Linked DNA regions of Homo sapiens: region 2 is linked to region 1. The links come from fine-mapping of genetic effects on gene expression. A gene starts in region 1. The other region holds a variant in brackets. All regions are shown on one strand. Distances are from middle to middle. Region 1 holds the start of ABHD2 (abhydrolase domain containing 2, acylglycerol lipase). Region 2 overlaps ABHD2 (abhydrolase domain containing 2, acylglycerol lipase).

Region 1 (15,256 bases):
GTACCAAATGGCTTCCTCTGAGGGGAAAAACTAGTCCTGCCAGATGCCCCTGGTTACATTACTTTGTGTTCCATTCTTAAATTTAAATTAAACTACTTTTATCCAACTATTATTTATTATATTATTTCTTAAAATGCACAAACAGTACAAATAGTACTCAGTATGGAGCATAAACTTCCTTTGGCACTTTTACGATTACAGAGATCCAGGCACATTTATAAAAACATAAAATTACTCAAACAGTAAATTCAGATGAGCTACATTAATGTAATGAGACTAATGCCATTTTTCAGACCTGAAATACCTGCAGACAATGTCAGTGTGGTCCTGCCTGTGCCTGGGCAGGTTCTATGGATCCCGAGAGCCTACACTGACAGGTACAGTGTGACAAGTCCATTCTCACACTCCTTTTCTCGCTGGGACCACTGCTACAGCCTTCATTTACACAGTGCTGTGTGGTATCATTTGACTTCACATGATGCTCTCATATCTTTTCTGCGCGAAGTTCATCTCTGTATTTTTCTCTATAGTGGGGTTTACCTGGCTTCAATTCATCAGAAATTCACATACAAACGGGGGAGGCACTGAGACGACGTGGGTGCACCTTGATATTATAATTAGGTATCCCAACATTCCAGGACAGGCTTGTAAAACATTTTCAATTATCATTAACACGAAACCAAAACGTCTGAGTTTGTAATCTAATGAGAACCCAAGGAACCTCAAGGACACATCCTCAGCCCTGGATTGGGAAATCCATAGCACAAAATGAATGTGATGGTGCTACACGAGGAAAGCAAAAAGTGTGGTGGGGACACGGAAGAGAGGTCATGCTGTATCTCAGAAGCCATCTGGGCCATTACCGGGCATACCAAATCATGGATTTAGTAAGTTTAAGTACATGCTTCCAAAGAACTTATGTGTAAATACCACTGAAGAGCCTTACTTAATTCCAGCAGGTTGCTGGGGTCTCACCTCAGCCCCCTCCCACTCCTCAGTCCTTAAGAACTAAAACGTGGCACTTCAAACATGACAAATCCAGGCTTCAGGATTCAAAGAACGATTTCCAGTATAAGTTCACCTCACTATAAGGTGCTACAATTGCATATCAACATTGTGTAGTCTGTACCACCTGAAAAACTGGGCGCAAAGCCCCGCCAAATGCTGCTGCAGTTAGGTTAACTAAACTAAATCAATGGCCTGATTTCCCAGAAAAAGAGTAACGAGCATTGTTTAAGGAAACTGCAAAAGAGGAACCTCTCCTTGAGTAGAATCCTCGACTTTAGGCCCTCCCAAACAGCATAATTCAATGGCCATTAACTCAACCTTTTTAGTAAGCTAAATATGTCCTGGTTAGAAGGTGCTCTTTAATCTGAGATATTGATCTTCCAACATTTTTGGTGCTAAAATATCTTTTTTTTTTTTTTTTTTTTTTGAGACACAGTCTTGCTCTGTCACCCAGGCTGGAGTACAGTAGCTCAATCTTGGCTCACCGGAACCTCTGCCTCCCGGGTTCAAGTGATTCTCCTGCTTCAGCTTCCCGAGTAGCTGGGATTCTGAGTGTGAACCACCATGCCCGGCTAATATTTTGTATTTTTAGTGGATATGGGGTTTCATCATGTTGGCCAGGCTGGTCTCGAACTCCTGGTCTCAAGTGATCCGCCTGCCTCGGCCTCTCAAAGTACTGGGATTACAGGTGTGAGCCACCGCACCCAGGCTAAAATATCTTTTTAGATGACAGGGCTTTTGTATTTCCTTATTTGTTTTTGTTGTTGTTGTTGTTGCTGTTTTGAGACGGAGTCTTGCTCTGCCGCCCAGGCTGGAGTGCAGTGGTGCGATCTTGGCTCACGGCAGCCTCTGCCTCCTGGGTTCAAGTGATTCTCCTGCCTCAGTCTCCCAAGTAGCTGGGACTACAGGCGCACACCACCATGCTCAGCTAATTTTTGTATTTTTAGTAGAGACGGGGTTTCACCATGTTGATCAGGCAGATCTCAAACTCCTGACCTCAGGTGATCCGCCCGCCTCGGCCTCCCAAAGTGCTGTCACTACAGGCGTAGTGACACCAAGCCCTGCTGTATTTCCTTATTTGAAAGAATTAAAATGTAGCAATCCATGTTGGGCTTCCTGATTTTTGTTTTTTATTGCCCTCATTGACATGACTAAGTAAACAGTACACAAATACATGCCTACAGTGACTGTACACATAGGGAGGCAATCTTTCAAAGCTTCTCTTTTATCCAAGATAAAATGAGAGGCTGAGGCAGGAAAATCGCTTGAACCCGGGAAGCAGAGGTTGCAGTGCACCGAGATCGGGCCACTGCACTCTAGCCTGGAAAAAGTGGAACTGATAACACCACCTCCCTCTCCTCACCTTATGTAACACAGTATCTGTGGTACAACTGACTAATAATGTGGGGGCTCTGCAATGAGCAAAGGCCAGAAGGTAAGGACTCTAGATTAGACTAATAGACTAAAGATTCCATTCAATTTCCAGGTGGCTCTAAACCAGACTCAGAGGTAAATAAAAGCAAGACGAAGGTTAAGGCACATTCAAAGGAAAGAGGAAAAAAAACCCGAGAGGCAAGACCTGGGAGCCACTGAAGACTATAAGACCATGTTTAAATCAGTGTGGTTATTTTAAACATAAGCCTAGCCATAGAAAGTTCAAATACGAAGAACCTTGAAAACTTTCTTCTTAGAGTCGGCATCAGTGGAACCCTTTGTTAGCGAGGCCAGGTCAGGCTCAGACCTTGGAAGTTTAAAGCGGTTTGGAGATCTTGGGAAATACTTTCAAGGACAGCAACAAAATTACGTGTGGGCTTGGGGAAGACGCTTTACAGAGGAGCAGGTGTGAGAGCTGGTTTTTCCTGGGGTGAGAGAAAAGAAGGGGTGAGACACTTAAAGCTACCCAAACAGAAAGTGCTGTGACAAAGGGCAGGCTTCCTCTTGGACGCCCAAAGGCAGGACAAATGGAGTGATGCTGTGGTGCAGGAGACGGGATGAAATGCAACAGAGATGCTGGAAATGAGGCCAGGCACGGTGGCTCACGTCTGTAATCCCAGCACTTTGGGAGGCTGAGGCAAGAGGATCACCTGAGGTCAGGAGTTTGAGACCAGCATAGTGAAACCCTGTCTCTACCAAAAATACAAAATTAGCTGGGGGTGGTGGCGTGTGCCTGTAATCCCAGCTACTTGAGAGGCTGAGGCAGGAAAATCGTTTGAACCCGCGAAGCAGAGGTTGCAGCGAGCCAAGATTGCGCCACTGCACTCCAGCCTGGGAGACAAAAGTGAGACTCTGTCTCAAAAAAAAAAAAAAAAAAAAAAAAGAATGAAAAAAGATGCTGGAAATGTGACTTGGGGAGGCCAGGAAGCTTCTCTGGAGAACAGAGAGCAAACGGCAAACTTTCCCTGGAAATGCTAGCACATTCTGCACAGACGGCAAGGCGAAGAAGGGCCCAAGGACCAATGCGTTCCTCACTCTCCAGTGCCCCAGCTCTCCCTTCTCAGCTGACCTTTAGAAGCTCCCCTGCACCTCCCCCGGGCTCTCACAGAAAAGAAAAATATTTGCCTCCAAATATTCACAAGATCTTTAAGATCTCCAGCAAAGCTGCTGCCTAAATAAGACTGTTTTTTAGCATCCTTAGAAACAGAAAACAGATATCTAAAATAGACGGCCTTCATAAAAAATGACGTGGAAGCTCTTTTCACACTGCCAAGAAATATTAAGTGAAAAAGGCAAGGTTCCAAATAGCATGTATGCAGTGTGCTACCATTTCTGCAAAAAGGGGTGGTGTACAGAATATGTTTAACGAATTTGCTTACAGATGTATAAAATCCCTTGGAAGTTCAGGGACCACTTCTGGAGGATGAAGAAATCGCTAATACTGGTTGCCTCTGAGGATCAGGGGTCAGGGGTACACACAGATGTATTTACTAGTTAACCTTTTGTGCCTTTAAAAAATTTTCTTTCATCATGTGAATGTATTGCCTATTTTTAAAAACTAAAATTTGAATTAAAAAATTTTAAAATTTCTATTAAAAACAATTTTAAAACAAAATAGTTTTTAAGCAACAAACCAAACTAATTTGTTAATCTTGTCAACTGTGTTCCTGGCACACACCAGATGCTTAATTTGTTGAACTTAATGAACCTCCACTTAAAGACAACAAAAGAAAATCAGAAACCAGGCAAATCCAAGGGTACCAACGTTCCACTTCTCTAAAAAGCTCTTCACCTGTCTGCTATTTATTGTGAAAGATCAGACAATGAGTCGGTGTGTAACAAGCCCCTCACCCAAATGGCCCCAGTCCACAAGCTTCAGGGGTAATGGTGGAGCTTATCGTCTGTCCACACCAACCATTTTACAAACAGAAAACATTCAATCCAAAAATATGATGCCCTGGACAAGACAACAAAAATCAATCTGCAGATATGAAAATCCTGAAAGGAGATAATGTAGCATCTGTATGGTATCAACAAAGAAACAGCAGCACAGGGCTTAAAAATGTCCTACTCATGCACTGGCCAAAAAGGCTGAACCATGAAAAGCTGCTATAAAATCCTGACACCAGACACATTTAAGAGGCACCCTGAACTTCTCATTGCTCTGTTCCTGGGGATAGCTTAGCCCAAGATGAAACAGAAAGGCTAAAGCAACTCATGCCCCACATCATCTATACTCTGAAACTGGTCATGGAGTACTCAAAACTCACAATGCAATAAAAATGGGAATACTGTAAGCTGTAGGTCATGGTAGAAATTCTGCCACACAAAATTCAATTATATTGGAAATGTCTCTCTCCTGGGGCTTTTAAAAGAGCCAGATTTTAGGCAAAAAATAAGACAGACTCTACCCCTGTCTCCCATAAGACCAAAGAAATTATTTCCTGCTCGGGGCAGGAGCTCTGAACAAGGGCAGTGAGAACCACTACAGAGGTTATGGGTCCTGCCGGAGATTACCAGGAAAAGGCGTAAATGCTTAAAGCAACGAGTAACAGCAAATGAGAAGCTCATCCACCAAAATACTGAGAAAAGAGAGTGAGAAAGAGAGAAAGGGGCCCATATTAATACACAAGCAAAGAAATGAAAACTATTATTCTAAAATGGCTGATCTCTAGAACAGCTTAAACAAAAACCGAAATTCAGAATCAACTCAAGAAAAATAAAGCATGAGAAGGTGCCATTTAATGAAGTGATAATCTTTGGTTCAATCTAGAAAACAAGTAAAAACAGAAGAGAAAATCAAAGGTGACTGGATTCCTGCAAAAAATGAAAGTGGCAGGCATCTTTTCATCAAAAGGGAATTGGCTGGCACACTGAGAGTGCCTATTTGTCAGACCCACGCAGGCGATAAAGGAAATGAAGGTGAGAGTAAAAAGGGAAAAAAGTGAACGACCCTGACTAAAATGAGAGGAAAAAGACCATTCCCTTGTACTTGCCATCTGGTTTATTTCAAGCTTTGGAAAAGAACAGGAAAAACACAGATAAACCAGTGAACCAGCTAGATTGCCAGCACGGATCAGTCACACACTTTTGCTTCTGCCAGGCCAGGCAGGCGCTGCTGGTGCTCCCCCTATTCGAATGACTAAGTAACTTCCTTAAATGCAGTTGACACATGATCCCTGAACTTCCGAAAAGCACTTAATACAGTGGCTCATAAAATCTTAATCTAAAAATGTTCATCCATTTAGAATCAAGCTGCATCACACTCATCGCTTGGGAGGAGGGCTGAAGAGAGGGAATACATATTTGGAAGGACACCATGGACACGGGTATCATCCAGGACTTTACCATTTCGAGGGATTCCCACCCCTCACTGCCTGCTTTTAACGATAATTTTAAAGGGTTCAGAGCCTAAGAAGAATGTAACTGCAAGGGGGAACTAACATAGAAACTAAATTACCTGAATCACAAAAATAAGTAAGGTATAAAATGCAACGTGACTTGGAAACCCCTTGCAGCTGTCTGTGTTAAAATGAAATCTGGAATATGTTAAATGAATTTGGGGGTGGGGGGAAGGGGACTGGGGGAAAAATTAGCTCTTGATAGAGTATTGGGTGGTGGATATGAAGAAAAATGTACAAAAAGGCAACAGAATATCATATCTAGCAAATCTATTGTGCTTACCCTGTGCCAGGTACTGTTCTAAATGCTTCAGATGTAGTAACTCCATGCACTTCTCAAAACAATCTTCTAACATAAGTATCATTATTATTTCTGTTTTAGAGGTGAGGAAACAGAGGCACAGAGAAGTTAAGTAGCTTGCCCAAGGTTGTACAGCCAGTAAGAGGCAGGGCTGGGATTCAAATCCAGGCACTCAGGCACCAAAATCTGTCCTCCTAACCTCTCTGGACTCCCCTAGAACTTAAAACACTGAGAATGGGCAAACTAAGCTTGGAGTGAAATAAGTCATGCACTGGCTAGATCTAAATACAGTCAAGAGATCAACCCTTAGTCATGGGCCTGTGATGACCAACCAGCCCTGTGACCACCCCAGGCCTCAGTTTCCTCACCTGTGCATTGAGGAGACTGAATGAGAGTCCACCTAATTAGACTTAGATAGAGATGAGCTCTATCTAAGGTGCCTTCAGCTCTAAAATGTCACAGTCCGTGCTGACTACCAGCTGTATATGGACTGCTTTCTGACTAGATGTTCAAAGATTAATTCATCCTAAAACACACAGCAAGGTGTGTTAAGATTCTTTCTCTGCCTCCTGACCTTTAGATTATTATGTTCTCTCTATTCCGGCAAATGACAGAGGGTAGTGAAGGATTTCTCTTTTGGACTCTGCTTAATGTGGCTGTAAGGAAACGGCCTTCGAAAAGCTCTGGGCACAGATCTTGTTGACTCTGCCAAACCTGCAGTCTCTCCAGGTCCCTCTGTGGAGCCTGTTCTTGGAACATGCCTTTGGATTTGGTTACTGGAATGCAGGTGAAACTGACAAACTGGAGGTCCAGCAACCAAAAAAGAGAGATTGGGAAGATTAAGAGAGCGGTCCATGGTAGTTCAAATACAAGGAGTTTCACAGTGGCTAAATAAACCTCTATCTTTTTGTATAATCCAGTCTCTTTGCTAACACCCACTCTTGAGAGCTGAAACCTCAAAATTCATTATGGGTGAATTCAACAGCCACTTGGAACCTAATGGACCCCCAGAAGTACTCTTCTCAAGCTAGGCATCAAAGGCCACTTAGAGTGCATTTGTGGGTAGAGAAGGCCCTTACAGATGGGTCATGCAGTCCTCCCTTGGGAGTCCTAAGCATCCGACACAGGTGGCTGTCATCAGGCCACTGCTTGGACATCGCCAAGGTCGAGGCGCTAGCTGCCCGGCCTGGCAGGCAGCCTCCTGCGCTGCTGGACAGCTCTAGCTGTGGGAAAAGCTCACGAAGGGCCTAGAACAGTGCCGGTCGCGGGGCCGAACTCGGTAAATGTGCTTCCAAGTGGGTCAAAAGCTGCCTTTCTAGAACTTAAACCCACTGGTCCTGCGTGAGCCCCTGGAGCCCCGAAACACAGAGGCCTCTCGGGTATCTCGGGCTGTAATCAGGCCCCTCGGCCCTCTCCTTCCAGGTGCGGATCCCGGACCTTCTTCGCCGAGCCTGAACCGGCAGACCCCTCCCCAGGCCCCTGAAGACCCAGGAGTGAGCACCAATGGGGGAAAGGCCGCGGTCGGGGTTGTCCCCAACCTCGGTTCCTCGGGCAGAAGGGGACAAAGGGCCTCAGGAAGGCGTATCCCCCGCCGCGATCTGGGCTGTCCCCACCACTGGGCAAGCCAGCCCCTGGGACCCCCACGGCGCCAGATGACAGGCCCCCCAGGATCCCCTCAGGCTGCGGCGTGATGGGCCGAGCTACGCCGGGGACCTCGGGGCTCGGAGATTCGGTTCGACGGGTCCGGGGTGCGATCCCCGCTCCGCGGAGCTCGCTCGGCCGTGGCTTTACCTGCGTGTGATTGACTACAGGTGCTCAGCTCGCCCCCAGTCTGGTTCCTGCAGCTCCCCGGCTGCCAGCGGCGCTCATGGATATACAGCCGGAACCCCTGGCCAGTGCAGCTCCCGCCGCTACCGGCCCCGCCCAAGTAACTGCCGCCACGCCCCTGACGACCGCTTCTGCCACGCCCCTAACCACGGAAACCGCTTGTTCATTGGGCAGTTCAGCCGCTTCTCCACTTGCCCCGCGCGCTCATTGCGTCTAGGAGGGGATCCATTGATCAGCGAAGCTGTTCCTCAGAGTGGAGGCGGGATTCTTAGGGGAGAGCTCCTCAGCAATTGGTTACATTTGACGGCTTTAGTCCAGGGACCCAGACGCTACTGGATAAGGCCAGCCCGGAGTGGGCGGGGAAAGGGGAGGAGGGCTAGAAGGTGGGTCGTGTTTGATGTCGATGGGGGCGGGGTGAAGAGACGGGTAATTGTGACCGCAAACTGCTTTAGAGGGCTGGGTAAGGTCAGCTGTCGACTGGGCTCAGAGGAATGAGGTCGGCTGGTAGCTCAGCTGCTGGTAGCTCAGCTGGGGCTCTTATGGGTCCAGGCCGACTGACTGACTCACGTGTACTCAAATTTCGCAGGGGTGAAATTTGAGGTCATATCCCGGGAGAGAGGAAGAAGGGTCGTGAGTCACCGAACCCGAAGGAGAGGAAAAGATGTGGAGGCAGCGGTCTATGGCCTCTTCCAGCTCCGGACGGGGGATGGGGACGCTCTGGGCAATACGGGCCTCAGTTATTGTCCCACTGTCCTTTCAACCCTTAACCAACCCAGTTGGAGGCCGCCTGGAAGAATGTAGCCTTGGAACTAGGGCCTGGAATTGGGGCTCCTACCGGTTGTGTGGGCTTGGGCAAGTCACTTAACCTTCCCGCATGCTCCCTTCACTTGGCAACTGAGGGTAACAATAGTAGTTGATGAGAAGATTAAATAAACTCTGATAAATGCCAACAGTGGCTGGCACTCAACAGGCATTCAATCAAGGCTGATTCTTCCCCCATCACCCACTCACCTCATCCGGCTGGGAAACTAGGCCCATTTCTAAAATTCTATGAGCCTGAAACTGCTTTTGCAATGGCATGTCGTGTACCAAGAATAGAACACTTGAGCGACTTGAAATGCAACCCCTGTAGGGCAGACAAGGCCACCCTACCAAGGCCCCATAGGGCTCGGAGAGAGGGAGCAGGGGATGAAATGAGAGGAGCGATTTAGTCAGAGAAGGGAAGTGGCATTTGTTACCATGTAAATTTTTCCCAACATATTTCAGGTTGTGACAAGGAACAGTGGGCTGGCTCAAGTTTTATGGAGCGTAACCAAATAACATCCTTTGAAGGCTGATCAGCACCGGACCAGAAATCATTGCATGAGCTCTATCTGTCAGAGACCCCTGAAACCCATTCCCCATTCTGAAGGTGTAGACATCACAGAGTGTGGACAGAAATAGCTTCTCAGGCCTGAATGTAGCCCCAGACCCTTTGTGTCTGTCTTTGAAAGAACTCACAGCCATGGTACATCAGAGTGAAGGAGAAGAAAGAATCCTTTGCCATTGCTCTATTTTTCATTCAGTTGTCATGTTACCTTGAAAAAAAAAGGTTTCATCTCAGTGTTTATATATTCCTCTGTATTCTCTTTCATCTTGGAAAAGAAAAACCCAGGCTTCAGTAGCAAAGTCTCTTAGTGATGAACCCCATCGTCCTGACTCTGAGTTAAAACAGTTTGGACTTCCAAAAAAGAGCTTTAGATTATCACTAGATAAGTATATAAGGTAATGCATATGTTAACTAGCTTGGTGTAGCTATCCCACAATGTATACATGTATCAAAACATGGACCGGTACAGTGGCTCACGCCTGTAATCCAACATTTTGGGAAGCTGAGGCGGAGCCCAGGAGTCTGAGACCAACCTGGGCAACATAGTGAGACCCCGTCTCTACAAAAAATTTAAAATTTAGCCTGATGTGGTGGTGCATGCCTGTAGTCCCAGCTAGTGGGGAGGCTGAGGCAGGAGGGTTGTTTGAGCCCAGGAAGTTGAGGCTGCAGTGAGCTGTGATCGCACCACTGCACTCCAGCCTGGGCCACAGAGTGAGACCTTGTTTGACAAATAAACATAATAACATGATAAACATAAATAAGTAAAGCATGTTGTACATCATAAATATATACAAATTTTGTCAATTAAAAATTAATAATAATTTAAAAAATAGGCTGGGCACAGTGGCTCAAGCCTGTAATCCCAGCACTTTGGGAGGCCAAGGCAGGAGGATCACCTGAGGTCAGCAGTTCCAGACCAGCCTGGCCATCATGGTGAAACCCCATCTCTACTAAAAATACAAAATTAGCTGGGCATGGTGGCACACACCTGTAATCCCAGCTACTCAGGAGGCTGAGGCAGGATAATCGTTTGAACCCAGGAAGCAGAGGCTGCAGTGAGATTGCACCACTGCATTCCAGCTTGGATGACAGAGTGAGACTCTGTCTCAGAAAAAAAAAAACAAAAAAGATTTGTCACTAGTTTTGGAGGGGTGTGTACACATATCTATGTACACATTTGGTTCTGATCCACAGTTTTCTGGTTCTTGTCTTTAAACAGTGCTGCTTGGTAGCCATACACATGGCTGCATGCATGTTACGGAAATAGGCCCAGCCCAATACAGGTTTGCTTCTGCCTGTGTTTGCTAAGGGAAAGTGAGATGTCTTGTTAGGCCCTGAAAAGCATGAAGTGGCTCCTGAGATCCAGGATGATTTCTCCAACTTGATTCAGAGCCACAAAAAGCAGCTGTTAGGAGTAGATTGCAGATGGGCTCGCCATTGTGTAAATGGCTTTTTTCTCCCATCTCAGGAACATAGGTTCAGCCACCAGTTCCAGAAAAGGACATCTTTCCAGTTCAGGAATTCTAAAACACAATTATGTCACAGAGGCTCAAAAAGAGGCACAGACTGAGCTCAGGAAGAGGAGGAAGAGTAAAAGGATCCGGGCATCTTCTCTGCAGCTCTGGCAGGCTTAAAGAATGATCCATTATCATTTCCCAGCACACAGAACTGTTTCCTTAATTGTCTCTGGTTTCTGTTTCCTCCCTTCTGCTTGCAGTCTTGCCATATTCTGTTTAATCATATTATTTCATTCTATAAATCATTTCTGAGGGAGGCCATTTAGGAGACAAAATGGACTTATTTTTGCCTTCAAGTTTAGTGGCCCGTTGGGATTGAGGATTTGGTGAGCCTTGGCCTGAGATAAGCAGGTGTTGGGATGTGGCTGTAAAGTGAATTTTCAAAACCGTGACAGTACCTTGTAATAAAAAAGAACAAGGGAGAGGGTATGCCCCAGTCACCTTCTGGGATGGCCAAAGCTGCAGGACTTCATTAAAGCAGAACTGCTTCTAACTCAACTGGGGCCTCTGCAGGATTTACTAACCTGAGAAAGTCAAGGTACTCTGGGAGACAGCAGGGAGCAGTGGTTGGAGCAGATAATATGTTCTATTTATTCTTTTAAGGAAAATCAGCAATTCACTCAGTTTGTCATTTTTGTTATTCTGTGTCCTCGGGGGATGGTTCAGAGAAAGGGGATTTGGAAGCTCTACTGCTGGGGATTGGATCCTGATTCCATCCTTCCTAGCCTTGTGACCTTGGGCGAGTACAGCACATCTCTGTGCCCTACTTTCTTCTGTAAAACGCAGAGGACAGTGAAGTGCTTGTCTCATGGGGTCCTTTGAGTGGCAGATGAGTTCACAGATGCAAAGTGCATCAAACAGTACCTGGCAAATACCTAAAAATGTTTAATAAATGTTTGCCACAGCTATTATAGGAGCCCATTTCAGAACCTTCCTCTAAGGTCCTCACTCATTTTCTAAGTTCTAGCCCTCAGAAGTAGTGATCACAGGATTCAGGATTTTTAGAAAATATAGATAGACTTTATTTTTTAAAGCAGTTTTAGGGCCAGGCGCCGTGGCTCATGCCTGTAATCCCAACACTTTGGGAGGCTGAGGTGGGCGGATCACTTGAAGCCAGGAGTTTGAGACCAGTCTGGTCAATTGGCGAAACACCGTCTCTACTAAAAATACAAAAATTAGCTGGGTGTGGTGACGTGTGCCTGTAATCCCAGCTACTTGGGAGGCTGAGGCAGGAGAATCGCTTGAACCTAGGAGGCGGCGGATGCAGTGAACCAAGATCGTACCACTGCACTCCAGCCTGGGCAACAGAGGGAGACTCTGTCTCTAAATAAATAAATAGTTTTAGGTTTATAACAAAATTAAGTGGAAAGTACAGACAGTTCCTATATACACACTCTCCAACACATGCAGGATTTTTTTTTTTTTTTTTTTTACACTAGCAAAATCTCACCACCTGGTGCGAGAAACTTTTCCTTTCGAATATGGTTACCAAAAACGGTTTGAGGACCGAGTTAAGGTTTTTGAGACTAGACCTCATCAGTGTAATCACTGTGAGGGAAATGGAAAGGATGAGGCTAAGAGAATAATAGTAAAAGCTGCAGCCTGGAGGTTCATAAAGTATTCCTGCAGTCATGACATGGTGCAGTCTGAGGGATCCAATATTGTGGCTTTATTGTCACAGCCGGTGCAGTCTGCATGCAGTCTAGGAAGGAGGTTCAGAATGTCCTGTTACCAGGTCGACTGTCTGGCTTCTTATTGGTAATGGAGATGAAGTTTGTTTAGAGGCTTTAAGTCCCAGCATGCAATAGTTCCATGAGGACAAACTATGATGAAATTCAAAAATGTGGTCCTTTTGTTATTAGAAAAGGCTTTCTGGTGGCCAGTGAAAACGATCATGAAAAATAATCTTGTCTGTGATTTGAGCTGCTTTCTTAAGCTATATGTGAGTTGTCTATAGTAAAATCATAAGATGAACACTCCTGGCTTATGTATGTTGTCCTGGCAAAATTTTAATAGTGCCCTCCCTCCCACCAGGTGACTCTCAAATAGTCCCAATTTGGTTGATAAATTTTATGGTAATATTTATACTTACATATATAGGACCCAGTACTAAAAATGCTCATGAAACACACAAACACACATACACGCACGTGCACGCGCGCACACACACAGATGAAAAAGTGTTCTAATCTTATAATCAGATACATACAGAATATCTGACAGGTGACTGGCTAATGATGACTTCTTCTTAGTCACCATGCATTCCTCTTCCTGATGTCATTCTTAATTACAGAAATAAAAATTGAGTTTTTCATACTATTAATTGCAAAACAGTCGATAAAACTTGTGCATTAAATAAGCTCATCATACACCCTTTCCTACATAATTTTATGTTATTGAGCTATTTTAAAACTATTTCCGGAGAAGGCGAGATGCAGTGTAAAAAAATAACAACAACTACAAAAAACCCACAAAAAAACAAAAACAGGCCGGGCACAGTGGCTCACACCTGTAATCCCAGCAGTTTGGGAGGCCCAGGCGGGTGGATCACTTGAGGTCAGGAGCTCGAGACCAGCCTGGCCAACATGGTGAAACTCCGTCTCTACTTAAAATACAAAAATTAGCCCAGCGTGGTGGCAGGCGCCTGTAATTCCAGCTACCTGGGAGGTTGAGGCAGGAGAATCGCTTGAACCTGGTAGGCGGAGGTTGCAGTGAGCCAAGATTGCACTGAGATTACACCATTGCACTGCAGCCTGGGCAACAGAGTGAGACTCCGTCTCAAAAACAATAACAAACAATTTCCATCTTTCCAGAGACCCCTATATTATTTTACCATATATTTAAATTAATTTACAAGACAGTAAACATTTTTTACTGAGCAAGACATCTAATACTAGAAAGACAGAATCATGAAGTCCCATTCATTCCTAGGTGGGGATGGATATAGGACAAATGGGAAATATTGACGAGATAACTCAAAGGACTGAGCAATAAGCACAGAGTGCAATCAGTGTCAGCAATAATTATTCAGAGGAGGCAGCAATTTCTTCTGACTTGGATTCTTGGAGATTTGAATTGGTTTTTGAAGGTCTATGGGCTGAATTTGGTAGGGCAGCATTGGCGGTGAGGGAGCATGGCATTCCAGGTAGGCCTGTGAGTGGATGAACACAAGATAGTTTGTCCATAGCAGAGTCAAATAGGGACCCAGTAGGCGAGAAGATGAAAAAAATGGATGGGGCTGGTGGTGGAGGCCAGATAATGCCTTCATCTTAGTTAATGGCTTCGTCTCAGCCCCTTGGGTATTTGGATATCCTCGCATAGTTGCAGAGCAAACATCCCAAACTCCAGGCATCTGCAAACCACATTGATAATTTTGACCCTATCTCTGTACTCTCTGCTTTATTATTTACTTAATAATGTTATTAAATTGACTCAACTTTTAAAATTAAATACCTTATTCAGCCCCATCCTAAACCAGTGGTTCTCAACTGGGGGCAGTTTCATCCCTCAGGGGACACTTGACAATGTCTGTGGTTGTCACAACTGCAGGGGTGCTGTTGACCTCTAGTGGGTAGGGGCTAGAGATGCTGCTAACCACCCTCCAGTGCCCAGGACAGCCCCACAACAAAGAATTATCCCAAATGTCAATAGTGCTGAGGTTGAGAAACCTTGTGGGCCGAAGCAATAATATATGTGATATTGCAGGCTTAAAGTGTGATTATAGTTATTCTAATTACATTAAAATCATTTCATAAGGATTACATTTTATTATTTTTATTTATTAATTTTTTGAGACAGAGTCTTGCTCTGTTGCCCAGGCTGGAGTACAGTGGCACGACCTTGGCTCACTGCAACCTCCATCTCCTGGGTTCAAGGGATCCTCCCACCTCAGCCTCCCGAGTAGCTGGGATTACACGCGTGCGCCACCACGTCTGTCTAATTTTTGTGTGTGTGTTTTTAGTGGCCAGGCTGGTCTTGAATTCCTGACCTCAAGTGATTCCCCTGCCTCGGCCTCCCAGAGTGCTGGGACTATAGGCTTGAGCCACTGCACCCGGCCAACTATTACATTTTTAAATATGACATTTTAAATTTATGTTTTTAAATGTTCTTCCATGTGCTATTCTATAATCATCTCTTGTATCACCCACAATGCAGACGTGGCATTTAAGTTACATTTGATTTGTATGCCAGGGTTCATAGCAGCATTATTCATAATGGCCAAAAGGGGGAAACAACCCAAATGTCCATTGATGGATGAAGGGATAAATAAAATTGGTAAGTACAAGTAATGGAATACTATTCAGCTTTCACAGGGATGAAATTGGCCGGTGCAGTGGCTCATGCTTGTAATCCCAGCATTTTGGGAGGCAGAGGCAAGAGGATTGCTTGAGCCCAAGAG
Region 2 (15,256 bases), 43 kb before region 1:
CCCAACTAGGAGTGTGCTGCTGGCACCTGGGGCCAAACCAAAGATGTTATCAGGTCCGAACCTGCCTCTACCTATATTTTATTTTGGCTCTTATATATTGATTTAATAAAATTCAACAAATACGAGTGCTGTGAGGCATACAGAGATTAGAGCCGGACACAGTGACCGCCCTGGTGGCATTCGTAATCTGAAGGTAGGATGCATGATGAATACACAGGCAGCTACTGTCACAGACAGGAGCGGTGGGCAATGGGGTCAGAGAGATAGAATAGGATGATACTATGGGGAGACAATCATGAGGCTGAGAAGTACCAATTTCACTTAGTGCATCATGGGGAGTACCAAGATCTCAGAGAGGAGAGATATTTCTGAGCACCAAATCTCTCCATCAGGAGCTGGGTGAGTCATGTCTCTAGTTTATTTATTTACTTATTTTTAGAGACAAGGTCTTACTCTGTCACCCAGGCTGGAGTGCAGTGGTACAACTACGGCTCACTGCAGCTTTAACCTCCCATGCTCAAGCAATCCTCCCATCTCAGCCGCCTGAGTAGCTGGGACCACAGGCACATGCCACCATGCCCAGTTAATTTTTTTTTGTAGAGACAGGGTCTTGCTATGTCGCCAGGGCTGGTCTTGATCTCCCGGGCTCAAGCAATCCTCCCACCTCAGCCTCCCACAGTGCTGGAATTATAGAAGTGAGCCATCCTGCCCGGCCTTCTAGCTTAATCTTCACAATTCTGAGCAATGGTGTCTTCCCCGTTTTAAAAATGAGGAAAAAAAAAGAAAAAAAAAAAGCTAGGATTAGAGGACAGGTCTCTGATTCAGTCCAAAGCGTTCCTTACTTTATCACACTCAAGACTCATCAACTCCCCCAACCAGAAGTTAAAATAACAGCTTTGTGCCTATTTTCTCCTGTCTGATCAACTGTCAAAATGTTCTATATTAAATAATGTTTCTTCAAATTGAAAACTGAATTTGTTGGAGCTTCTCTACAGTGGTCTTCACAGGTCTTTGAAAAAAAACATTTCTTTCGTTTTGCATGTTTCTCACAACTGTAACTGACTTCTTGTTAGAGGAGTTTTTTTCTGCAGAAGATACATCTGGGGGCTAATTAATTTGAATATTCACATTTAATTATCTCTAAGATAAGGCCAGAATGTTAACAAAATCATACTGAATATCTCCCCAAAGATCCAGGAGAGCGATGACAGTGAGAGCAAGAGAGGATGGAAGTGCTTCTAGAAAGGTGACAGGTGTTTGATTTGGGGATACATTTTTACCCTACTTTCATGGGTGAGAATAAACCCAGGAGGACAAGCATCAGTGGTGGGGGAAACACTGGGAGTGAAGCTTTGTGGCAGCTCCACGAGTCTGCAAACTGAGTTCCAGGCCTTCCTGTGTGTGCACATGTGCATGTGCATGCATGTGTGTGCACACAGGAAAGGTAAGGAAGCCGGCAAGGGCCAGAGTTTAGGAGAACATTTTGTCAGTTCTTTTCCAGATCCTGAACTGCCAGAGCCTCCCTGCTCCACAGGCCTGGAAGCCAGGGCCCTTGCTGCTCCTACCACAGACACCTCTGGTTTCTTTTCTGGCCTATCTACCCCTAGCCTGGTGGACCTGAAGCCAGCAGGTCAACAGCAGGTCCTTCGTGAGCCCATCCCACTGGGCTTCACCCTTCTCCACTAGGACACAGCCCCCACTGGAAGCCCTTCTTTTCAGGAGGGCCAGATGTGGAGTAGACCCTGTGTGCACATCTCACCAGTCCTACTGGGGAGGTAAGGCTGAGGCTGGGAAAGGGCTTCCTCATTAGCTTCAGGAACAAACACCTTGGGCCTTTCATCTCAAAATGGCAGCAACATATTCAGCTTCCCAAACACCCATTAATAGGCTCATCAGAAATCCACTTTGAACACAGCATTTTCCCCTCACTGGAGGCAAATTCTTCTCCACAGCTGTCACACATTACATTTTCACTGTTGTTGCTAAATGCTCTATTCCTGAATTGCAGGATCTGCACAGGAAAATTCCAATGCAGAGACTGTTTCTGCCTGAAATGACCAAAAGTGGCCTGAGGAAACAAAAGAGCAATCCTCTTCCGTTCCCGAACTGGTTTCTAAATACAGGACGGAGGCCACTGGGCCAGGCTGGTACATCTGTGACCTTTGTGCATATCGTGCAAACTATAAAATATGAATGTTAGGAGAACAGCCCCATGAGTTACAATAAAACCACTTAAAAAGAAACTACTTTTTTGCTCCAAGGAAAAATAAATGTGCTTTTCTAAAGTTCAAAGAAAACCAGTTAAAACCCCTCAGAACTGTATCCACATGTTAAATGCATCTGATCCCACTATCTTCCTGTTCACAAACAGCACGCGGAACTGGTCACATCCTCCCTAGGCACACCAAAGCACAGTCCTCTCTCCTCACGTTGCATTTCAACCTGGTTTTGACACCATGCTTTAAGTAGGGAGGCAGTTTATTAAGAAGCTCCAGAGTTCCAGTCTCCAGGGTTCCACTGGAACCCTGGATCCGTTAGAGAACTGGTCCTGCAAACAGCCAGTCAAAGATTAGTGACCTAACTTTAGGAGAAGGCACCACTATTCCCAGACCTGGGCTGCCAAGGTGCTAAGTGCAAAGTTCCCAGACTCACTCTGTGCTAACCAAACAGGATGTACGCTGACGCTCAGAACACAGAGCACCCGTGTCTTGTCCCCATCTGCCTAGTCACCTCTCTCCTGAGGACATGCACATAGATGCCAATGGTCTGCTCTTTGTCCAACACAGTGCCTTTTGGCTACTTCCCAGGCCAAGGCTACCTCAAAATCTGTGCCAGCGTTATGGGGAGGGAAGATTAGAGCTGGAAAATCACATTATATTTGCCACTATTCCTAGTGGAGGAAAACTCAAATACCTAAATGTGAAGCCCCTGGATTACCTACACAGAATGCTCTTTTAAGAACACGCTAATCAACTAGGAGCTGCGCTGGCTGGAGAGCAATGTTATAGAGCGGAGAGAGTGAGGAGGCTGCACCTGGCTCCCGATATCACAGCCATTGCAGTACAATGAGCTCCATAGAGATAGCACTGGGGCAAGTGAGAGCCAGATGGGCACTGGGCAATTCTGTGCCTTGCTGAGGAAAAATAACTAAACATGGGCAAAGGAGACCCTAAGAAGCCAAGAGAGAAAATGCCATCATATGCATTTTTTGTGCAAACTTGTAGGGAGGCACATAAGAACAAACATCCAGATGCTTCAGTCAACTCCTCAGAGTTTTCTAAGAAGTGCTCAGAGAGGTGGAAGACCATGCCTACTAAACAGAAAGGAAAATTCGAAGATATGGCAAAGGCAGACAGGGCCCATACGAAAGAGAAACGAAAACCTGTATCTTTCCTAAAGGGGAGACAAAAAAGACGTTCAGGCTGGGTGTGGTGGCTCACGCCTGTAATCTCAGCACTTTGGGAGGCTGAGGCGGGTAGATCACCTAAGGTCAGGAGTTCGAGGCCAGCCTGGCCAAGACAGTGAAAGCCCGTCTCTACTGAAAAAAAAAAAAAAATTGCCAGGCATGGTGGCGGGCGTCTGTAATCCCAGCTACTCGGGAGGCTGAGGCAAAAGAATCGCTTGAACCTGGGAGGCAGAGGTTGCAGTGAGCTGAGATTGCGCCATTGCACTCCAGCCTGGGCAACAAAAGGGAAACTCCATCTCAAAAGAAAAAAAAAAAAGTTAAAGGATCCCAGTGCACCCAAGAGGCCTCCTTCGGCCTTCTTCCTGTTCTGTTCTGTCCTGTTCTGTTCTGTTCTGAGTATCGCCCAAATATCAAAGGAGAACATCTGGCCTGTCCACTAATGATGTTGCAAAGAAACTGGGAGAGATGTGGAATAACATTGCTGCAGATGACAGGCAGCCTTATAAAAAGAAGGCTGCGAAGCTGAAGGAAAAGTAAGAAAAGGATATTGCTGCATATCGGGCTAAAGGAAAGCCTGCTGCAGCAAAAAAAGGGAGTTGTCAAGGCTGAAAAAAGCAAGAAAAAGAAGGAAGAGGAGGAAGATGAGGAAGATGAAGAGGATAAGAATGAGGAGGAGGAAGATGAAGATGATGATGAATAAGTTGGTTCTAGTGTAGTTTTTTTTCTCGTCTATAAAGCATTTAACCTGTACATAACTCACTCCTTTTAAAGAAAAAAACTGAAATGTAAGGCTGTGTAAGATTTGTTTTTAAACTGTACAATGTCTTTTTTTTTTTGTATAGTTAACACACTACCAAATGTGTCTTTAGATATCCCTGTCCTGGTGGTATTTTCAATAGCCACCAACCTTGCCTAGTACAGTATGGGGATTGTAAACTGGCATGGAAATTAAAAGCAGGTTCTTGTTAGTGCATGGCACAAATTAGTTATATATGGGGATGGTAGTTTTTTCATCTTCAGTTGTCTCTGATGCAGCTTATATAAAATGACTGTTGTTAAGTGAATACCACTCTGTAATTGCAAAAAAAAAAAAAAAAAAGAAAAAGTTGTAGCCATTTTGTTGACATTCTGAATGCTTCTAAGCAAATACAATTTTTTATTAAAAATAAATAAAGAAAGAACACACCAATCAAGAGATGACTTTAAGGATTAAAATGCTGACATTTGACATCAGCATTTGTACTACATCTTGCCTTTCTTTGATGTGCAGAAAACAACTCATAAAATGGCAAGCAATGATGTTAGGAAAAAGTAGGTTCTACAAATATTTAATGAAAATTATGTTTCTTTTGTCAGTAATTATATAGATCATTACTAATAAGCCATACTCAAAACTTGACCCCATTCTTGCTCCCAGGGAGTTCACAATCAAGAAAAGGAGATAAGAAAACTTTATAATGCTCTTTCGGGCTCAAAGACTTGAATAAATGAACTTGCACTGGAAAACTTGGCATCACAAACATGTCAATTTTCCCTAAATTACCTATAAACTTAAGAGATACACAATAAAAATAATAAGATTTTTATATGTGGAATTAAACAAGCATTCTAAAGTTCATTTGGAAAAATGAACCAGCTATAATAGCCAAGAAAAGTATGAAAACAAGCAGTGCTGGGGTATGAGCATCGCCCCACTGCCCACAGCAAAACATAGTACAAAGCTGCAATCTGCTGATGGTATATGTTCAGGACCATCAACAGAACACAAAAGACTGGAAATATGCCTAAATACATCCAGGAAATTTAGTTGGTGAAAAAGGTGGCATTTGAATAATGGGGTAAAGATGGATTGTTTAATAGTGTTGGACAAAGTGTAGCCGTCTTGAAAAAAATTATGTTGGAGCCACACCTCACACCAGGATAAATTCTGGAAGGATGAAACATTTCAAAATAAAAATGAAATCATTCATATGCTAGAAGAAATTCTAGGCTTTTAAAAATAATCTTGCAGTGAAGAAGACCTTTCTAAGGAAACCAGAAATCCCAGAAGCCACAAAAGAAACAATTGAAAAATTTAATTATGCAAACATTAAAAAAAATTATGCGGCCGGGCGCCGTGGCTCACGCCTGTAATCCCAGCACTCTGGGAGGCTGAGGCGGGAGGATCACGAGGTCAGGAGATCGAGGCCATCCTGGCTAACATGGTGAAACCCCGTCTCTACTAAAAATACAAAAAAAATTAGCCGGTCGTGGTGGCAGGCACCCGTAGTCCCAGCTACTCAGGAGGCTGAGGCAGGAGAATGGTGTGAACCCAGGAGGCGGAGCTTGCAGTGAGCCGAGATCACGCCACTGCACTCTAGCCTGGGTGACAGAGCGAGACTCTGTCTCAAAAAAAAAAAAAAAAAAAATTATGCATGGCAAATACCACTATGGGCAAAGTCAAAAGACAAATGACAAACTGAGAACAAATATTTGCAATTCATATCACAAAGGGCTAATTTCCCTAGTACATAAAGAGCTCCCTCAAATGATTAGGAAAAAGACCAATGACCATCAGAAAAATGGTTAGAGGCCACCAACAGGCAGTGAACAGAAAAGGAAATAAAAAGAGTTCTAAAATATGAAAAGATACACAGTCTCTTTAATCAAAGAAAGACTAATTAAAACCACAGTGAGAAAACATTTTTCACCTACCAGATTGGCAAATATCAAAAAGTAGAACTCCTGATGTTGGCAACGTTTTGGGGAAATGTGCTCACAGTGCTGGTGTGGAGAGGCTTGAGGACAACAGCTAGCAAAATTTTCCATGCACATCCCCTTTGACCCAGTAGTTCCACCTCTAGGAGTTTATCCTATACTGACAGGTGCGCATCGTGATGAAAATACAGAAGCATTCAATGCAACATTGTGAAAGCAAAAGATTACAAATAAAGGAAACCTCTATCTAGGAGACTGGTTAAACAAACTATTTTTTT[A/TA]TGGAATACGAAGCAGTCAAGACATAAATGGAGGAAGCTCTTTCAGCACTCCTATGGACAAATCTCTGAGTGATATTTCACAAAGAAAAGATGGAAGGATAAACAAGAGCCGACTGACAGCAAGGGCAACACGGAGGGTACAAGGTCATAGGTTCTACTGGCTGATAAAAGAACCTCTGGGAAATGCAGCCAGGCTTCTTGACCAGGGTGAGCCTTGAGCACAAATGTAAGAGGAAGGAAATGATGCAGCTGCCCTGGAGCTTTCCGTCAGAGGAACAGTTACAAAAAGCTGATAGAAGCCACTGTTGATGGCTGTGGGTTAGCCCTGTTGAAATGGCAGCCCTCCCCTACGGTATGTGGGCACAGGAAAACATTTTCTCAGATGGTCAACAACTCCATCCTTGAGAAACCCCAGCTTAGGCACCAGACCTTCATCTTGTCCACAAAGTGAGAGAGCGCCACCAAACCATGCAGATAAGCATGTTCTAGAAAGTCCTACTAAAGCAAAGTCCATCTCTCTTTACATATAAAGGACAAATGCAAAGGACAGTGCTGGTGTCACTGCTTATTATTAGGAATGAACAAGATAATGGCTTTCAAAACTATGAAAGATGAAATGCATATTCAGAGTCCTCTTAATTTCATATCAATTTGAAATAGCTATAAGAAATTAGAAGCTTAAAAATCACCCATATCCTCACAAGCCTTGCAAAAATATTCTCATTTTTGTTTCCTTTTCATCTATATCTATCTGAAAGCAGAGTATTTACATAGTTACAACAATGGTGCTCAGATAGAGATATATAATTGTCTTCTGCTTTTTTCACTTATTCTCTATTTTTATAGATAATTAGTATGCTAAGTTCTGAACGTCTGCATAAAATTCTATCCTGTTTATTAGCTATAGTTAAGGGAGGGAGCAAACATTTATTTAGCCCCTTCTATGGGCATGTTACATAATTCAATTTGTCCCTTACAGCGATTCTTATTATTAGGACCCCCTTTACAGACAGAAACTGAGTGTCCAACAGCCTACTGCACAGCGGACCCTGCATTTGAACTCTGTGTGTGTCTGACCCGACAGCTCTTTCTTTCCCCTGCATTATCTTGCTGCTGCCTCCATTGTTGGATGCTGCTATTCCCAGTTTTTACTATAATAAACAATGCCAGCAAAACATCTTTACATATTTTGTTTTCATCTTTCTTGAATTTTTTTTTCATGTTTTTCAACTCCTGTTTAAAAAGTCCAACAGGATGCCTCATCTGTCTCCTGACTCCTGCCCCTGAGAGATGACTATTCTTAACTCCTTTAGTCGTCCCTACCATCCCACACTTGCCTTTATTTCTTAATGCCATGCTTATCCTGCTTATGCTGGTTCTTCAATTTCAGTTTTCAATAGCACCTATTGAACTTCCTACTCTGGAGGGTGCTAGCTCTCTTACGTCTCTCCTAAGACTTACATTTTCCCCTCGCCCATTCTTTTCAACACTGTTACAGCAACACTTATGGTTAATTTTCAGTGTTTATAAAATTATAATTATGGAAATATTAGCCACAAAGAAGTCATATGTTGTATTCTTTTTTGTGAAATTTTTTATTTTCCCTCAAGTTATCACTTTTATCATTTCCTCATCAGCTTAGTTTTCTATGTGCCAATCATCAATTTGTCTCCAGACTCTAGGGGACCTGTTAGTCTCTCAATAGTCAGAAACCAGTTTTGCTTTTTCTTGGACACACCACTGAGGAGTCCCTGTGCCTGTTCCCCTCTGGAAGGGCTTCCCATCCTGCCCCTTCACCTCTCTGCTGGGTCCTAGATCCCAAGGCCACACCAGATGCTATCAGACAACAGAGAAGAGAACCATAAATGTCCAGAAAGCATTCATCAGAAAGAAGGTGATTATGTTCTCTCAAATAAAGAGGCTGTGTGGAGGTATGAAGGGATTCCAGGTAGAAGGCATTGCAAATGTAAGACATAGTCAAGAGAGAACATGCAGTATGAGAAAATGTGGAGAGATCTGATGTGTCTAGAACACAAGGAATATAGGGAAGAAGGAGCGAGGGCTGATGCTGGACCTCGCCCTACAGACAGTGAGGAGCCACTTGGTTTAAAGCAGGGGCATGGCATGATGAATTTGTGCTTTAGGAAGATAATTTGGTGGCCTGCAAGATCAATTAGAAAGGGTAGAGAATGGAGGGAAAGCTATTGCATTCTTCCAGGTGAAAGCTGATGACGTCCTGCAGTGAAGCAGAGGCACTGAAGGAGAGATGGAGTGAAGGACAGAAGGAAGGAGGCCCACGTGACACAGGCTGCTGCCTGTGGCCATGATTATTCTCCTCTTCTCTGGACACAGGTGTGCTGCTTCTCAAGTTAGGCATGGGCACGAGCCTTGCTTTAAACCAGGGGTGTCTAATGTTTTGGCTTCCCTGGGCCACTTTGGAAGAATTGTCTTGGGCCACACATAAAATACACTAACACTAATGACAGCTGATGGACTAAAAGAAAAAGAAAATCACACAAAAAATCTCATAATATTTTAAGAAAGTTTATGAATTTGTGTTGGGCTGCAATCAAAGCTGTCCCAGGCCACATGCAGTCTGTGGGCTATGGGCTGGACAAGCTCTCAAGCTTGTCCAACCTGCCTTATTTTGTTGTTATTGTTCTGTTTCTTTTGTAGGCTTTTAGCAGCCTAAAGCCATGGTTTGTAGTTTCTGTCTCTAGTGATAAGCAAAAAACAGGGATGAGGAAGGGGCTTTACCGGACCAACCAGAAACAGAAACTGAGAACCCATGACTGTATTATCTCCCTTGGACACCCAAACCAATGAAATGGGAAAGGAAATGACCAAGTGCCATTTCCGGTAGCAGCCTGTAAGAGCCAGTGTGTGAGGTGTGACATTGCTCTTCCTGGCTCGGTGATGACCACGGAAGCAGGTGTTGAGATGTCACCTCCATCAGCTGGGGTCCTGGTGGGATGACAATCAGCAGAGCCCTCCTGCCCATTGAAATAAACACGTAGCATGAGTGAGAAATAAACATTTGTGGCTTTAAGATGTGCAGGTTTAGAGGTAATTAGTTACCACAGTATAAACTAGTTTACTTCGACTAATACGATGTCCAACTTAATATAATTTTGACAATATTGCCATATTTTCCTCTGAATATCAAATAATATTTCATGTTTTAAGGCTTCATTGTTACCAAGTCTTAACATTATGAGGTGCTTATTACATGTATTTCCTTATGTGGAATTTATCTAGGCACATCTTTTACCCACTTACCCACTGATGTCCTACTGACATTCAGGTGTGCTTGTGTGACCTTCGTGTACATTATGTCTTTTGCTATTTGTACAACTGATCTAGCTGATAATATTAAAATAAAAATAGCTACAATAATAGCAGCTATATTTACTGAACTCTTACACATGCCAAGTATCCTATAAATCATCTTACATGCTGTTCTTTTTTTTTTTTTAATCAGCATACTGAACCTATGAAATAAGTGCTATTATACCCATCTTACAAATGAGGAAATAGAAGCTCGGCAAGGTGAAGCCACTGGCCAGCAGGGGGCAGGGCTGGCATCTGAGCCCAGGTGGGTCTCACTGCTGATCTGGACTCTGGATTCCCGGGGGGCAACAGCTCGCTAACTTCACCCTCTCACTTGGGCCCCTGGATTTACCCTCTCAATCTTAGGGGAAAAACCTTCAATCAATTTGGCTTTCTCCTCCAGTTTCCATTTTTTCTCCTTCCTTCTCTGGTGTTTGTTTCCTGACTCACTTCTTTGGTTGCTATTGTGCTGACCTGTTTATTCACCTCACTCCTGAAAACACATTCTCAAAAATCCCTGATCCTTTCTGGCCAAGGTAGATGGCCTTTGGTCAGCCCTCATTCTTCCTGAGTTTCTGACACCCTCTTCAATGTTTTCCTTCTCTGGCTGCCATGGAACTGGAGGCTGCTGGTTCTCTCCCTACCTTTCTTACTGCCTGTCTCTGTCTCTTCCACCCTAGCCATGGCCTGCCTCAGCCATCAGTCTTTAGTGTCTCTCTCTGCCCACCCCCACAACCTCCCCTACCTGCAGCTGATCTGGAATCTACACATCTGGTCTTGAGCTCCCACCTAAGTTCTAATGCCATAATTGCACATAACCCTGTGCACATCCTGTGGACAAGCCCCAAGCTAAACAACTTTCCTTGAGAAAGCAGCTTCCCCATTAGACTTCCCTATTTCTGTCAATGATTCTATTCTCTCAACCGCTCAGTAACCTCAGCATAATCTGTGATTCAGCCCTTTCCTCTGATGCCCAAGGCCATTCCATTACCCACCAATACCACTGATTCCACCTTAGAAGACCTCTGGAATTTGTCCCATCCTTCCCTTTCCAACCACCTACCACCAGTGCTCACAGGATCAAGCCCAAACTCTTCCTCTCTGGGAATTAGAGACTCCTCGTGATCTGATCTCCTCTTCCTCCCCCCCACAGACCATAGGGCTCTCTGCTACAATCAAACAGCTCTCAGCTCACCAGATCGTGGCATAGGGACCTGGTGAGGAGCTGGCCACGAAGCAACTATAGAGACCAGACCAGTGATGGGGCCCAAAACCCATTAGCAAACAAAATCAAAGGGCACAGTGAGCAAAGGGCAGACTGGGTAGCAGGGCCAAACATGATGCAAGCAGCACCAAGATCATTTTTGGGAGTTACAAGAGAGACAATCAAAGTCTAGCCAAATGAAGATCCATGGAATTAGGAGACAAGAATAGAGTAGCTGTGGTGACGGCAAAGCATTGACAACGTGGATATGTGTCAATGGCAGCAAGGCCTCTACCACCTTCTTATCCTGCTGACTGGTTGGAAGGCCCACAGGACAAAAGGACAAAGGTGGATGGGTGAAAAGTGTTGGCCTGGGCAGCAAAGCCAGTTTTCTGCCATGAGTGCTTGTTTAAATAATTGATTTTACTGGTTCATGCTCACACCAACATCTGTGCCTTCTCTCCTATTGTCCCATCTATCCAAAGCCAACTAATCTTTCAGGATTATGGAAGACCTCATCAGTCAAGCCACCACAGGAATATCCCCTCTTTCTCTAAATTCCTTTATCACTTACCTGAATTACTCACTCTGTCAATCACATGTTCCTACCAAAAGACTCTACTGAAGTTAGTGTGTACTGACTCTACAAGAAGCAGCAACCACAGGGAAGACAGAGAATTTTTAAGACAGTCTCTGTCCTTAAGCCTCTCAGAATACACTTGAGGTGTGACGAGAGATACATATGTGGAAAGTTATTGTTTCCATCCCTGTCCTTAGGTAAGAGCCAATGAGACAGAGACAGGTAAAAGTCAGGAGCTACTAGAAGAGCTACGATTTGAGAAGGCCTGAGGATTCTGACAGACAGAGAAGGTGGAAATGTGAGAAAAAGTATTGTGTGTGATATAGAAGGGGCTGAGTATGGTGTACAGACGGTGAACAGACTGGAAGAGCAGGTTACTAAATATTACTAATTGACTAATTTTTAAAATATACATATATATATATATATATGTGTATATATATATATGTATATATATATATTCACTGAGAAGAATCTTCCTTTATTCAAATCCCAAGGAAGGAAAAGTCCATACTGCTGTGGCTTGGCAGGTGTCAACATTTTAAAAAGCATTTATGGAGTTTCTCACTTTACATCAGTAAGAAATTACTGTTCAAGCTTTTGTGATCTGGCTGAAAACACCAGTTCAGGGTCTTGCCAGCAGGAGGATTTGGTGCTACATATCACAGGAAAGTCAGGTTGGTCATGGCAATGGCATTAGTACTCAGTGGAAGGGTAGAAAAACATATAACCTGCTGTTTCTCACAAATCTCTCCCTTCCTGGGAGGCTACAGATGGTTCTGGATCAACCACTGATCTCCAGGCAGGGTTCCCAAATGTTTTGGATTACAGACTCTTATAATGGCTACCTCAGAAGTTAAGCCATCTGGTTTGATGCCATGCACCCACGCTGACCCAGAGCCCTCACTCTATGATTAGAAACTGACAGCAGGTAGAGTTAGGGTGGTTCACAAGCTGCCACAATGGCTGACTCATTTCCATGGCTCACCGTGATACTACACTGCAGGCAGCTACCTCAGGCAGATGGAGGGCCTCTGAGGAGTACCCGGCCCTTGGTACTTGGTAGAGGGCACTTCTCAGTCTGACTACTGACAGTCATGGGGTAGCAAACAGCAATGGCATCTCATCCAATCATGCATAAAATCAAGTCTTCAAGGACTACAGCCTTCTGTATTAGTTATAGCTTTCTAGAATTTCATGGAGGGGTAGATTTCCTTATAAACTCAGGAAAATGCTTTCCTTAAGTAAACATTACACCATCTAATAAATTCTGACCCTAAAGCTCAGGATCCCAAACAGACTCCATTTGCAGGGAAGTATTCTTGATGCTGCTGAAGAAGACTGGGCTTCTAAAGCCAGTCACTTCACTCACTGTTGCTTCAGACAAAGAAAAGCGTAAACAGCCGTCAGCTCTTCACTCTCCACATCACTGCATGACACTGGCACTGAGAGTTTAGGAAAAATTCTTACTTACCCTCCAGAATATATTTTCCAAGTCAGTTTACTGTCTTAATTTTATTTTACCATAAAGTATATACTATTTTGTAGTACAAAGTGTACTATCATAGTGAAGGAGGGCATGCTGAGAAGCAGGCAGAGAAAAAGAACAGTGGAGATCAAAATTGGCAACCTCTGAATTCACAGGGTCAGTAAAACATGAGAGGCTGATAAAAGTTGGCTATCCTTAGAAATTCGAGACTTTCTAGAAAACAAGGTCCATTTCCTGCTCCCGGATAGTGGAGCAATTTTCAGTCAACCACACATTGAGAAGGAGTATAAAAGTAGATCTGATTCCATGTAAGTCCTGTAAAGCAAATGAGGTGTAAGCTAAAAGTTAAGGATGAATGGTGAACCAAGGTGGATTCTGAAATCGAGTCTGGGAAGGGGTGACACAGAGGGGTGACTCAAAACAGGACCTTACACGTGGAGCCAAGGCCCACTTACCGTCCACATGTACTGAATTTGATACCACGTGATGGAATCAGTTGTAGCATATACTTCCTTTTGGAAGACATATACTCCTTTTTTGGAGACATAGTAGGGCCCTGAAGAGTAAACTCAGGTATGATGAATAGGGCGGTATAAGGGTCATACATTTTTGGAAACCAGAATTGGTTGTTTTAAAGAATGCTCGGCACATAAAGGATGAGCCTTTTTCCATCTGAACTAAATCACGGGAGTCTTGACTATTTTGGATTCCGAACCTTTTTTTAGATCTTTCAGGCTTCGGCAATTCCTATAAGAAGGCATAAAGTCTCTAAGAAGAAGCTACAATCTGTATCTAGGTTAGAGAAGGTGGATGAATTCTGCAGCAGACTCAGACTTGGTGATCTTGATTCAATATAGGAGACCTCAAAGATGGCGGCACTTTTCTTCCTGATGTGGCTGGCCCCTTGCATAAATGACCTGCTACAGCAGAGACAGGGCAGGCAGGCAACATCCAAGATAGTGAGTAGTTGAGAGGGTGAACAACTTATCCCTGTTTGCCCTGGAATTCCCCGGTATTAGTACTGACAGTCCCATGCCCCAGTCCTGAGCAAACTGGAATGTTTGGTCAGCCAAGTAATAAAAGAGTGTCCCAGAGTCAGCAGTTTAACTTTCTTACTTTGACAGTTTTGGTTTGGGCTATTTCACCAGAAACATGAGCAATTTTAAGATGAAATTGCCTAAAAGTTTGACTTATTGAGGCTAGCCCTTAATATTTAGCCTCAATCAAGATGATTTTGAGTCTTCCATTTTTCAGGAATTTTCTAACAATATAAGTTTGCAGGTGAATATGCTCTGAAGGTCTGGTGGCTACAAAATAAGCACATCAGAACACTACAGTTCTGCCAATCACTTGTTAATAGTTTACCAGAAATATCCAAAGAAATATTTGCACAACTCTTTTTTTTTTTTTGACATGGAGTCTCCCTCTGTCGCCAGGCTGGAGTGCAGTGGCGCAATGTCGGCTCACTGCAACCTCTGCCTCACAGGTTCAAGTGATTCTTCTGCCTCAGCCTCCTCAGTAGCTGGGACTACAGGCATGTGCCACCATGCCCAACTAACTGGTTTTTTTTTTTTTGAGACAAAGTCTCACTCTTGTCCCCAAGGCTGGAGTGCAATGGCACGATCTCAGCTCACTGCAACCTCCACCTCCTGGGTTCAAGCAATTCTCCTGCCTCAGCCTCCCGATTAGCTGGGATTACAGGCACCTGCCACCATGCCCGGCCAATTTTTGTATTTTTAGTAGAGACGGGGTTTCACCATGTTGGCCAGGCTGGTCTCGAACTCCTGACCTCAGGTGATCCGCCTGCCTTGGCCTCCCAAAGTGCTGGGATTACAGGTGTTAGCCACCGCGCCCAGCCCTAATTTTTGTATTTTTAGTAGAAACGGGGTTTCACCATGTTAGCCAGGATGGTCTTGATCTCTTGACCTCGTGATCCACCCACCTCAGCCTCCCAAAGTGCTGGCATTACAGGCATGAGCCCCCATGCCCAGTCTGCACAACTCTTAAAACAGATAAAATCAGGTCGATGGAATTAAGGCTCTTGGCAATTAGGAATTTATCCTGTGAAAAGGACAAAGCTTTAGTGTTCAGCCAAGAAGGAAAGGATCTAAATCTGATGTGGAATGTCTGTGAGCAAGAGGGAATTAAGAGAAATTTAAGTCAAAGATAATGAAATTCTTTTCAGCTTTAACTTGCTATAAATAAATAAGCTGTGCTGGTTCCAGAATTTTTTTTACCTAGGAGGGGCCTAGGGTGGCAATCTGACTGGAAG

Evidence for each region. PIP is the estimated chance that this variant, and not a neighbour inherited with it, causes the effect.
Region 2: its variant is fine-mapped to the expression of ABHD2 in whole blood (TOPMed, PIP above 0.99).

What each region holds. Positions count from the first base shown.
Region 1 is chr15:89,081,243-89,096,498 of GRCh38, reverse strand. It overlaps ABHD2 (abhydrolase domain containing 2, acylglycerol lipase), which reads right to left and starts at 8,043. Exons shown (of 11, transcript NM_152924.5): 1 at 7,936-8,043. It overlaps LOC124903573, which reads left to right. Exons shown (of 7, transcript XM_047433432.1): 3 at 4,258-4,323; 4 at 5,216-5,364; 5 at 7,567-7,664; 6 at 7,813-8,431; 7 at 8,558-8,938. The coding sequence ends at 8,772. CARMAL (coronary artery disease region linked MFGE8 regulatory lncRNA) reads right to left here. Exons shown (of 4, transcript NR_183882.1): 4 at 12,270-14,008. RefSeq lists enhancers at 7,384-7,903, 7,845-8,024, 8,635-9,280.
Region 2 is chr15:89,124,393-89,139,648 of GRCh38, reverse strand. All of the region lies in intron 3 of ABHD2 (abhydrolase domain containing 2, acylglycerol lipase), which reads right to left. It also overlaps the pseudogene HMGB1P8. Among named protein-coding and RNA genes, the nearest start is that of ABHD2, 44 kb to the right of the region's middle. RefSeq lists an enhancer at 1-89. The variant A/TA (reference allele first, on the strand shown) is at 6,382.